Linked DNA regions of Homo sapiens: all the other regions are linked to region 4. Evidence: fine-mapped expression QTL. A gene starts in region 4. Each other region holds a variant in brackets. All regions are shown on one strand. Distances are between the middles of the regions.

Region 1 (2,750 bases), 100 kb before region 4:
ATTTTCACATTCTTTAAGACACGAATATTTATTGCAACCCCTTCCAAAACACACAAAATGTACATCTACATACACACACATTGACCAACACCTAGATCTCTTCACATTTAGTAAAGCTTAACCTATTCAGTGGTCATTAAAGATTTCAGAGCCAAAGATATGAATGATTAATGACTGGCCAAGAGGGGATATTCAACTGAAACGTTAAAAGGCCCTACTTTGTATTCTAAAAGGTATTGAATTTTGCCCTGAGAAAAATGAAAGTGAAAGTGCTAACTGAAGAAGTCAAATGGTTTCCTGGATGGAAAGATAACTTCCTATCCTGTCTTCTATATCACTGTGTAGGTTCTTAGAGGCCAAATGAGATGGTACATTGACAAACGTTGAGACTGACCTGGTCAAAAGTGACTTAACAGATTTTTCAAACATCATACACACCTAAGCCCGAATAAGGGAAGCCTGCCCACTACTATTTGCTGGAAATTCTTGTATAAATATTTCAGTGTGGCTTTTATTCTTTGATGCTTCTAAGGGTTTTTCTGGCACTTGAGGAGTTACATACCCATTCATCTGTCAAAATTGAAAGAGGAATGTTATTCAAGAGAGTGTTCACATGTCTGAATAAATGCAGCAAAATAAGACAAGTGAAAAATGGCTCAGTCCTAAGTGTCCTAAGCATTCTGGAAAGCGCATGTACATTTTAAAACTGATTGCTTTTTTAATTTTCTGTGTATCATGTTCATGGCTTTTAAAAAAAATTTACTGATTTTCTTGATGAAGAGTTTAGCAAATGCAGAAATTGAATCTTACTTTCCAAATGTTTTGATTGCTTCTAATTGCCTTTAGTTTTTTTATGTGTGTTAGTTTAATACCACAGAAAGCTTTAGAATCATTAGCTCTAGAAACATAAGCCTGCCACTTAATCACACAATGAGTGAATCACTGGCATCCAGGCTAGCCAGAAAGCCAGATCTGGAGCTGTCTGTTCTAAGCCTCAACTGGGAGATTCATCTGTCTTAGGCTGCTCAAATCACTTCTTGTCTAGTGGAAATTTTCAGAATGCCCTCACAGCTATAAATTTCCAACATGGTATAGAAATTCATTGGCCCACCACAACTGACTATTCTAGGGAGTGGAAGAAGCTTTTAGTTATATTCATTTTCTGAAACAAAAAGAACTCTTAACGGCCTCTTGTCTATCTGTCTCCTCTCCTTTGCTACCCTACCCAACAGCAGCAATGGTATAATGCGAAGATAGCCCCCA[G/A]AATTCCATGTACCAAAGGTTATGAATTGGTCTTGTATTAAAAGCACAAACCTCAAAATTAGACCTGGATTCAAATCCAGCCTCCCCACTTTTAGTTGTGGGCCCTAGGAAAAGTTATTTACTCTCTCTTAGCCTCAGTTTTTTCATCTACGTGATGGAAGAAATAATCTCTACTTCAAGTAGTTGTTATAAGAATCGGAGAAGATAATACATAAAAAACAGACAGCTCCTGGCAGGGACTAAGTGCTTTTTTTTTTTTTTTCTTTTGAGACAGGATCTCGTTCTGTTGCCCAGGCTTGAGTTCAGTGGCATGATCATGGCTCACTGCAGCCTCGACCTCCTGAGCTCAAGCCATCCTCCCACTTCAGCCTCCCTAGTAGCTAGGACTACAGGCACGCATTACCACGCCCATATAATTTTTGTATTTTTTGTAAAGACGGGGTTTCTCCACGTTGCCCAGGCTCATCTTGAACTCCTGGGCTCAAGCAATCTGCCCGCCTCAGCCTCCCAAAGTCCTGGGATTACAGGCACGAACCACTGCGCCTAGCCATAAATCCTTATTTAATGGGAGCTGTTAATGTTGTTGATGTTGTTGCTATTGTTGTTGCTAAGTTCTATCTGTGAATTATTCTACATTCCCAATAATCAGTGGAAGTCTTTGAATCTTATCAGTGGAAAGGAGTTTAAAAATCTTATCCCCCAATCCACTTAATTTACAGATCAAGAAACTCATGTTTCTGTAAAATATTCAAGAGGCCACACACTTGTCCAAGGTCACACAGAATGACCTGAAGGATGGCAAAGTCTCTTGATTTCCAGACCACAGTTTATTCTGCATGCAGTGCTCATGTACAATACTTTGATTGTTCTTTGGTACATGCAGGATTATTTCTCCTGCTTTCATATTTTTCTGATCACTTACAGTTTTAGTTCCAGCTTGCTATTATGTGGAATCTTAGATCAATATATGCATCTGAAAAAATGTGAAAATAGTGCAAATTAATTAGAAGCCAGAAAACCTAATCAGAAGAGAAACATTTTGAAAAAAGTGCATAAACAGTGCAAAATAATTTAGAATACCTATCCAAAGAACTGTTGTAGGAGAATAACGACTTTGTTATGAATAATGATAAACAGTTTTCTTTTTGATTTTCTGAAGAAATATTGCCAGGAAAAATGGTGTTAGATGCAAAGTCTAATATATGTTCTCCATATATATATCTTTGTATATATTACCAAAAAAAAACTACATTTAAAGTTTTGTTTTTTCTTCTAAATGTTTCACCTAAACAAGAATGAAAGTTTTGGAGAGAGGAAGGAAGAGAAAGAGACCTAATGTTATTTTTCTCCTGCTACAGGAGGGAATTTACCAAGAAATAGAAAATAGATGCCTTATTGTTGGATTGTGGCTAAGCAGTTCTCATTGCTGGAAGGACTTCCACTGAAGCCCAAAGCAGAAGAGGGAATTAAGTAAGCGACTCTTGCTT
Region 2 (2,750 bases), 180 kb before region 4:
GTTCCCTACTTAAGTGACATGCTTTTTCTTTAGTGCCTCCCAGTTACCTCTGTAAAAGGATTGTTTGGAAATAGGGTCTGCCTGAATGAAGCCTAGAGGCTGTAAACAAAATTCCTCTTCATCAAAGATGCAAGTAAACAATTCTGGGCCAAACTGAACCACAGAGAGGTCATCTTAAATGCCCATCAAGCCATAAAAGGGTAGCCAGGGGATTGAAATTTTACACCTGTGTAAGGCAGGGAAGTAATACTGAAGTTAAAATAAAATAGCAGGCTCATACACTTAAAGATGGTTATTAAGCAGAGGTTGTCACCTTATCTCTGTGAGAACTAGTCTTGCAGATGCCTTGAGAAGAAGGAGTCCCAGCGTGGGACTCTGAGGGCCTTGGTGTGCTGACCCTGTGGCAGGGCCATTGCCCACTACACACTAGCTTTGGGTGGGAGGTGTAGAAGTTGCAGTGAAGTCCCACACTCATGGAGCAGCTGTAGTGCTGAGAAAGTGCATTAGAAGGCATAGGTTGTGTTCAGAGATAAGGCACCCATGATACCCCTCTGAAGTCCCTTTAAGGTGCTCATCCTGCCACCTGTAAAGCATCTAAGGCACCCTGGCCCCAGGTCGGGGGATGGAACCACAGTAAGGCTGTGGTATTACTGTCCCTTGGAGCTGAAATAAGTGCCGGGTAAGATGGCACTGGGACTTGGTTGAGTCACTAAGGTAGAAGTCCCAAGGCCCTCCATTAAATTTCTCCCACCTGAAAGTCTGGGCCTCATGAAGGTAAAAACTGCTACACAGGGAAGGTGTCTCTGAAGCTGCTGGAGCTCCCTGTTGGGCTGGACCAGAGCCCTTCCGTAACCTCGGCACTCTTGCAAGAGAAGGCAACCCCACTGTATTATACTCTCATGGGCTGGAATAGGCCGGAGTCCCAGGCTTTAGCGCTTTGGGTTTATAGGGATAACCACTTCTCCAGAAGTACCATGGTTAATTTATTTCAATGACTCTATTGGCTAGCCTCCTACTGGCTCTCAACCTAGCCTCATGGACCTCTTTAATTCATAAAGGTAGGCTGGCATGGGGAGAGTATTGCTCCATTTTCCTTTGGAGATGGAAGTCTTAGTATATCTTAATTACCAGACAATGGAGTCTTCATTCCTTCTTTAGATTTGCCTAACCAAGAAAACCTCAGAGTAACATTCCAAGAGCAAAGATGAACATCTATCCTGAAAACAAATAAACAAACAAGCAAAAAAGCTGCTTTCGACTACAAAGCTACAGCAGGACACTTTCTCTGCAGTGAAATGACTGAGTCAAAGGATACGGGCATTTGAAAAGCCCTCTTTTGTGTAGCCACTATGTGGAATAAAGACAACTCATGTGATATAACTGTAAAACAATTTCTTATTTCCCAGTGCCCCTTTAACTGTTTCGTTCTTCCTCTCTCCTGATTGAAAACTCCTATAGTCCCACGCGATGATCAAAATTTTAATCTTCGTTCAAAGGTCAATCATCCTGCCTTTCCCACTGTGGTACTGTTTCAGGACAAGGTCGACTTCTCCATCCTACCCATAGCACTTTCCCTCCATCTGCCCATCAAGGCTATGATTAGGCCACCTGTAAAAG[T/G]CTGTCTTGGCTTCCTCAGGCTGGAACTGCAAGGTGGGAAAGGAAGTGAAAAGGGCGAGAAAGTTCTTATTTGATTGATGTTGTCAGTGGATGGCTTCTGCTTGCTGGAGCGTGAAGCTGTTTTTTTCTCTTATGTGCATTTTTTGTGGGTTATCATGAAAGCTGCCATTGTTGGGGGATGCTTCTCTTTCCGTTTCTTTGATGTGGGAAATGATGTCTCTTCTAGCTGGTCACTGGCAGCTCCTCTTGCGACTTCTCACCATCCAGTGACCCACAGCTAGCTTCCTTCTTCTGATGTTCTCTTAGTCTTCAGATAGCCCTCAGAAAGATTCTTGATGCTCCCAGACTGCCTGCCTCTCAAGAGTGGTACAAACCTCTTCCTCAGGAAATACACTTTCTTTGGCCACAGCCACCTCTCCTAGATCAGCTTCTAAATACTTCTATCTCACTGTGTTTACATTTCTTAGTGGGAATCAGACACAAGTATAGTCCCCTAAATCAAGCTTGTCCAACCTGTGGCCCATGGGCTGCATGCAGCCCAGGATAGCTTTGAATGCAGCTCAACACAAATTCATAAACTTTTTAAAACATTATGACATTTGCTTGCAAATTTTTTTTAAAGCTAATCAGCTGCTGTTAGTATATTTTTATGTATGGCCCAAGACAATTCTTTCAATTGTCTTTCAATTCTTTCTTTTGGTCCAGGGAAGCCAAAAGATTGGACACTGCTGCCTTAAACTGAATGTAGCACATCTTGAATTCTCTATGTGGGCTCCTTAAAACCGTTAAGTGGGAAACATCTTCTATTCCTCACCCTTGTTGAGGTATCTAGCACTCCAACATCTATCTCCAAAATCCTCCTCCCAGTTTCACCTTCAACCTCCATGTACTTCATCCTCTTTGTATTTTTAATGTGTGTGAGGGATGAGTTCTGTCATTGGTGTTCAGATACTTATTTTGAAAATTTGTATTTTGTTTTAGCAACTCACTTTGAAGTGCAATATATATTGTATCTTGATTCCTCAGTCAAAATCTTCAAGGAACAGCCAATTGCATAAGAAAGATTTGCTCTTGTTCTCACTCATAGGTGGGAATTGAACAATGAGAACACATGGACCCAGGAAGGGGAACAT
Region 3 (2,750 bases), 70 kb before region 4:
GACCTGAACAAGAACAAAGTGATTAGAAATGGGTCCCATTGATGTTCAAAATTTTGTTTAGCTGATTGCATATACATATAAACTAAACATGCTATTTGTAGCTTTAGTGCATCTGATTGGTTGTTGACAACAGTGTTTACATCCTGAGAGAGCAGAAGAATAAACTGTTGCGTAGATTGCTGTCAAGTCTGAGTTATTCTAGCAGCAGAGTTATTTATTGACTATAAAAAAAATCTTGCTATTTCCATCTGGCTGTCTGCTTGATGAAACATATTTCCAGATAAAATGTAAGCAGAGGAAAATCCCTTTTGTTCCACCTAAAAAACATCATTGGCTTCTAGAACATGAATACTATGCTCACGAGTAAACCTGCTCCAAGGGATACTTCTGAAGATGGTTATTTAATAGCTTTAGCTTTAGAAGAACAATTAGGGTGGCCATTAGTTTTCAATATTTCAAGCACAAATCTTTTAAATAGCATCAATCTCAAAGCAATGTAGAAACTACCCATTTTCTTGAGCTTTTGTCTCAATCAATGCTGTTTAAAATAGTTAAAAAAATAAATTTCATTGAACATGAATTAAGTCTTAAATCAAATGATTTGCAGGATTTGAAGGACTTTTATCCATTTAATAACTTGCTAAGATGAGACTATGATTTACTTGGTAAAAAAAATTATAGCCCATGAATCACTGGGTTACCACTCATTAATTATTATTGACTGTGTTAGGATAGTATTTTACAGAAGAAAAATATCATGACTTTCACAGTAAAGTAAGCATTACAATAAGAATGACAATTTGTTCATGAAAACTAGTAGCAGAATTGAAAAGGGCCTCTGGGGCAATTGAGTTTCTCCCCAAATTTGTTGACTGAATAGCTGCCATTATTCTTCAGGGCTTTCTCAACAGGTGGCTGTCAGATCCAGGTCTGCCTGCTATTGGTAACAGCATTTCTTCAACATCAGCCAGCATCAGGCCCCATTATCTTGAACTCTTTATAAGCTTTCTTTCCTTCAGCTTCAAAATTTCTTGCGTTAGTTCATAGTCTTTCTTGCTTTTATAGGAAATTCCAGATCTCTCCTTTTCTAAATCAAATTTGATCTGTTAATAACATATAGCATGTACCTATTTAGAATGTCATCTTCCCCTTGCAGACTTTCAGTAAATATTTTATTGTCAAGGTTTGCCCACATTTACTCCTATCCAAATCTGATTAATCGACTTGCTGAATGGTATTCACTATGAAAACTTGGTCCTCAATGTTGAGTCTTTAAAACAAATATATTTGTCTAGTTATTTGTCCATCGATTCACCCCTGCATTTCCTCACACACACTCAGAAATTGGCACACAAACTGCATATGCATAGCTTCTAGGGGCTTGGAGAAAGCATCAGTTAGAGCCTGCTCCCCAGAGCTGCCTTATGTTGTGATGTAGATGCACATCAAGTTTAGAATCAAGAATGTTAGAGTGAAAGTAACCAATGAAAAACTGAGGTCCAGAACTGTTACTGTGATGTGCCTGAGCCACGGCCACATTGAGTGAAACATGATGCACCTCACCTTCTAGGTTAGTGCTTTGTCTTTCTGCCCCCCTTGTTTTCCTGTGTGAATTTGATCTTGAAAATTAGCCA[C/T]GTGTGAAGCAAGCCTAAATCAACACTCCTCTGTAAAATAGACAAGGTGAATTCAAGATTACTGTGACTCAGCTCTTAAATTCTGTCATTTAACAATCAACATTTCTGTGAAGTAAATAATTACTCCTTAATTCATATTCTTTTTTTTTTTTTTTTTTTTTTTTGAGAGGGAGTCTCGCTCTGTTGCCAGGCTGGAGTGAAGTGATGCGATCTCAGCTCACTGCAACCTCCACTTCAGGCGATTCTCCTGCCTCAGCCTCCCGAGTAGCTGGGCACTACAGGCGCGTTCCACCTCACTCAGCTAATTTTTGTATTTTTCTAGAGACGGGGTTTCACTATGTTGGCCAGGATGGTCTAGATCTCCTGACCTTGTGATCCACCCGCCTTGGCCTCCCAAAGTGCTGGGATTACAGTCATGAGCCATATATTCTTTTTTAAAAAATAGAATTTTAGTTTAGAATATCTTTCAATGTACTTAATTTTTGCAAAGATAGTACAGAGTTCTCATACACCCCACACCCAATTTCTCCTAACATTTTTTCCTGTATATTTGTCACAATTAATAAACCAATATTGATATATTATTATTAATTTTATTTTCTTTTGTAACATTATAGTTTGGTTTTACATTAAAGGAGATGTGCTATCATTTTTTGAAGGGAGTATGTAATCTTATCTGATATATTACATGAAAATTATCAGCAAGTCATAATTATTTAACGTTATTCTTCATATTTCTGACCTCGTGTCCTTTTTTCCAATGTACAAAGCTTTCATCTATTTGTTAATCAAATACTTATATTGTGTTTACTGTGTGTCAGACACTGTTCTAGGTCCTCTGTAAACAGTAAGCATTTAATCCTCATAACATACCTACATATTATTATCATCCTCAATTTGGAGATGGGAAATTGATGCTCAGAGAATTTAAGTAACTTGCTCAAAGTCACACAGTGCAATCTAGCTCCAGAGTCATGTTCTTCGTCTCACATGTGCTCCTATGCTTCTCTAGGGGACAGAATCCAGCCTTACCTTGTTTATTTCTATAACCCTTCGCCAACTCCTGCACCATAACTTGCAAGTGGTGTGGTAGATGTATTACTCTGCTCAGGCTGC
Region 4 (2,500 bases):
TGCTGGGGCCTCCTTAGTTTCTCTTCTATTTCATTCTTTCCTTTCCTTTTATTCCACATTATTTTACATTTTCCCATAAGTCATCCATAATTCAATCTCAGTCTAGAAGAGTAAATTCGATTACTCGGCGGCTAAACATCGTGTGCCTTCTCAGAAACAAGAGAACTTGTAAAACAAAAACAAAAACAACTTAAAAAAACAAAAACAACCAACAACCACCAAAAAAACAAAGGCATGAAAAGTTGGAACCTATCGGGAGGCTCTTGGAAACTTGGGCAGCTTCCTTTCTCTGTTCAGGATTTAGATTTCTATCTCACGTTACTTTGCGAACAGCTTCGCCTGTGAATCTCCCCCTACACCTCTGGGCACCGGTGCCAATTCCTTCCCTTCCCTTCCCCAGTAGCCCCACACAGTATAGAGGAGCTTATTTTCTAAGACTGCACCGGTGTCAGAGGTGACGTGAGAGTTTCTAACCGAATGGCGTTTTAGAAATAGGAACGGGAAACACAGAAACGGCTGAGGAGCGACCCCGTGGAGCAGACAGGCACAGCCCGGGAGCGGCGGACGCCAGCGCCGGCGCCGCAGGGAGCGCGTGCGGGGCTCCGCGGGGCCGCCTCCCGCGACTTCAGCAGGGGCCGCGGCCGCGCTCCCGGGCCGGTGGGCTGAGGCAGGCAGAGGCCGCCATATTCCTGTCTCACCACGCCCGGCCGGACGGCAGCCGCAGGTCGGCTGCGGCCCTGGCACGCAACGGCGGCCGCCGGCTCGGGCTGCGCGTCGGCGGCCGGGTCTGGCCCCGACTTCGGCCGGGGGCGGCCGTGACTGCTGCGCCCGCGGACTCTGCCGAGGGTGCGGGAGCAGTAGGCGTCCGCAGAGCCCGCGGGGGCCGGCCCAGCCCGGGAGCCGCGCGGGCGAGGCGAGAGCCGCACTGGGAGGCGCGCCGCGGCGGCCGCGAGCCCAGGAAAGCCTTCCAGGAGGGGCCGGGCGGCACCGCCTCCCGGCTCCCTCCTCCCGCGCCCATCCCCTCCGCCTCTTCCTCCTCCTCCTTTCGCCGCCGCCTCCTCCCTCCCGGATCTGTGCTCCAGTTCAGAGAAAGAAGAAAATGTGTGTGTGTGGCGAGGGGGAGGGCTCGCACTGAGCAGCCGCTCCGCGCCTGGCAATCGGGGCAGGGGGTGGGCGTCTGGCGGGGGCGGGGGCGGAGGCGGAGGCGGAGGAGCGCGCGGTTGCCGGGCGGGACGGGAACCGGGTCTGCGCGCGAGCCGGGCGGTGGGCGCGGACAGGGCCGAGGGCGCCCGGGAGCCGTGTCAGGCGGCGGCGAGGAGCGGGCGCGCCGGGCGCGGGGAGCCGTCGGCGGCCGCTCGCTGCGGGGACACCCCGGTGAATGAGCTCTCGCCGCCAGGCGCACGGCGTAGGGGAGCCTCGCAGGCGGCGGCGGCGGCGGCGGCTCGGGGGGCGAGGCGGGCCGCCTGTTCCCGGGGAAGGAGGCGCGGGCGTCTGAGCGAGGCCGGGCGCGGCGGCCTTCTCTCACGCGCCCCCCGAGCCAGCGCCCGCCTCCCGCGCCCGCCTCTCTTCTCCCGTCGGCCCAGACTATCCGCTCCCACCGCGCCCCCGGCCCACCTGGTGGCCCCGGCCCTGGCCGCCGCCCCCGCGGCGGTTCCCGGAGCTCGTCCCGGACGCGCGCCCGGGCGGCGGGGGCTCGGCGGCCACCGCTGCCTCGGGGGAGCGAGGGCGGGAGGGTGTGTGTGCGCGCTGTGAGCAGGGGGTGCCGGCGGGGCTGCAGCGGAGGCACTTTGGAAGAATGACTCTGGAGTCCATCATGGCGTGCTGCCTGAGCGAGGAGGCCAAGGAAGCCCGGCGGATCAACGACGAGATCGAGCGGCAGCTCCGCAGGGACAAGCGGGACGCCCGCCGGGAGCTCAAGCTGCTGCTGCTCGGTGAGTACCGTCCGGGGCCCCGCCGGGCCTCTGCGCCCCCAGCCCACCATCCTTGGCCCTGCGGGGCAGCTGCCTTCGGCGCCCCCGCCCCCCGGCGCCCGCGGTTCGCCCCTACCCTCCCGGGCGCGCCCCCGGCCACTGCCTTCACCCGCGCGGGCGCGCGGGCGCGTTACACACAGACACACACACACACACACACACACACACACACAGCGACACACACACGCAGCACAGGGGTCGGGGCTGCCCTGCCCGGTGCCTTGGCTTGTTCCTTTTCGTGTCCCTGAGGGCTGTACCTTATCTGCTGTGCATCTGCTAAATGGCAGATCACTCCGACCAGAGGCGCGGGGGTGGAAAGGTGGGCAGAGGGGTTGAACTTCCAGTGTCGTGGCCGCGGCACCCCATGGGGTGGTGGCGTGGGGAGCCGTGTGTGTGGCCCAGCGGGTGGCGAGCGGAGCCGGGGCACGTTGGGGGATGGCCTGCGGTGGAGTGGCCGGTGTGCATCCATTATCAGTGCCCTATGGGGTCAGGAGGGAATGGGGGAACGGTGGGCAGACTCGCAGCTGGAT

The links. PIP is the estimated chance that this variant, and not a neighbour inherited with it, causes the effect.
Region 1: its variant is fine-mapped to the expression of GNAQ in skeletal muscle (GTEx, PIP 0.99).
Region 2: its variant is fine-mapped to the expression of GNAQ in whole blood (TOPMed, PIP above 0.99).
Region 3: its variant is fine-mapped to the expression of GNAQ in whole blood (TOPMed, PIP 0.93).

Annotation. Positions count from the first base shown.
Region 1 is chr9:78,130,382-78,133,131 of GRCh38, reverse strand. No RefSeq gene overlaps it. Among named protein-coding and RNA genes, the nearest start is that of GNAQ, 100 kb to the right of the region's middle. The variant G/A (reference allele first, on the strand shown) is at 1,264.
Region 2 is chr9:78,210,133-78,212,882 of GRCh38, reverse strand. No RefSeq gene overlaps it. Among named protein-coding and RNA genes, the nearest start is that of CEP78, 25 kb to the left of the region's middle. RefSeq lists an enhancer at 1,567-1,886. The variant T/G (reference allele first, on the strand shown) is at 1,618.
Region 3 is chr9:78,100,272-78,103,021 of GRCh38, reverse strand. No RefSeq gene overlaps it. Among named protein-coding and RNA genes, the nearest start is that of GNAQ, 70 kb to the right of the region's middle. The variant C/T (reference allele first, on the strand shown) is at 1,635.
Region 4 is chr9:78,030,531-78,033,030 of GRCh38, reverse strand. GNAQ (G protein subunit alpha q) reads left to right here and starts at 1,220. Exons shown (of 7, transcript NM_002072.5): 1 at 1,220-1,931. The coding sequence starts at 1,796. RefSeq lists an enhancer at 1,137-2,031.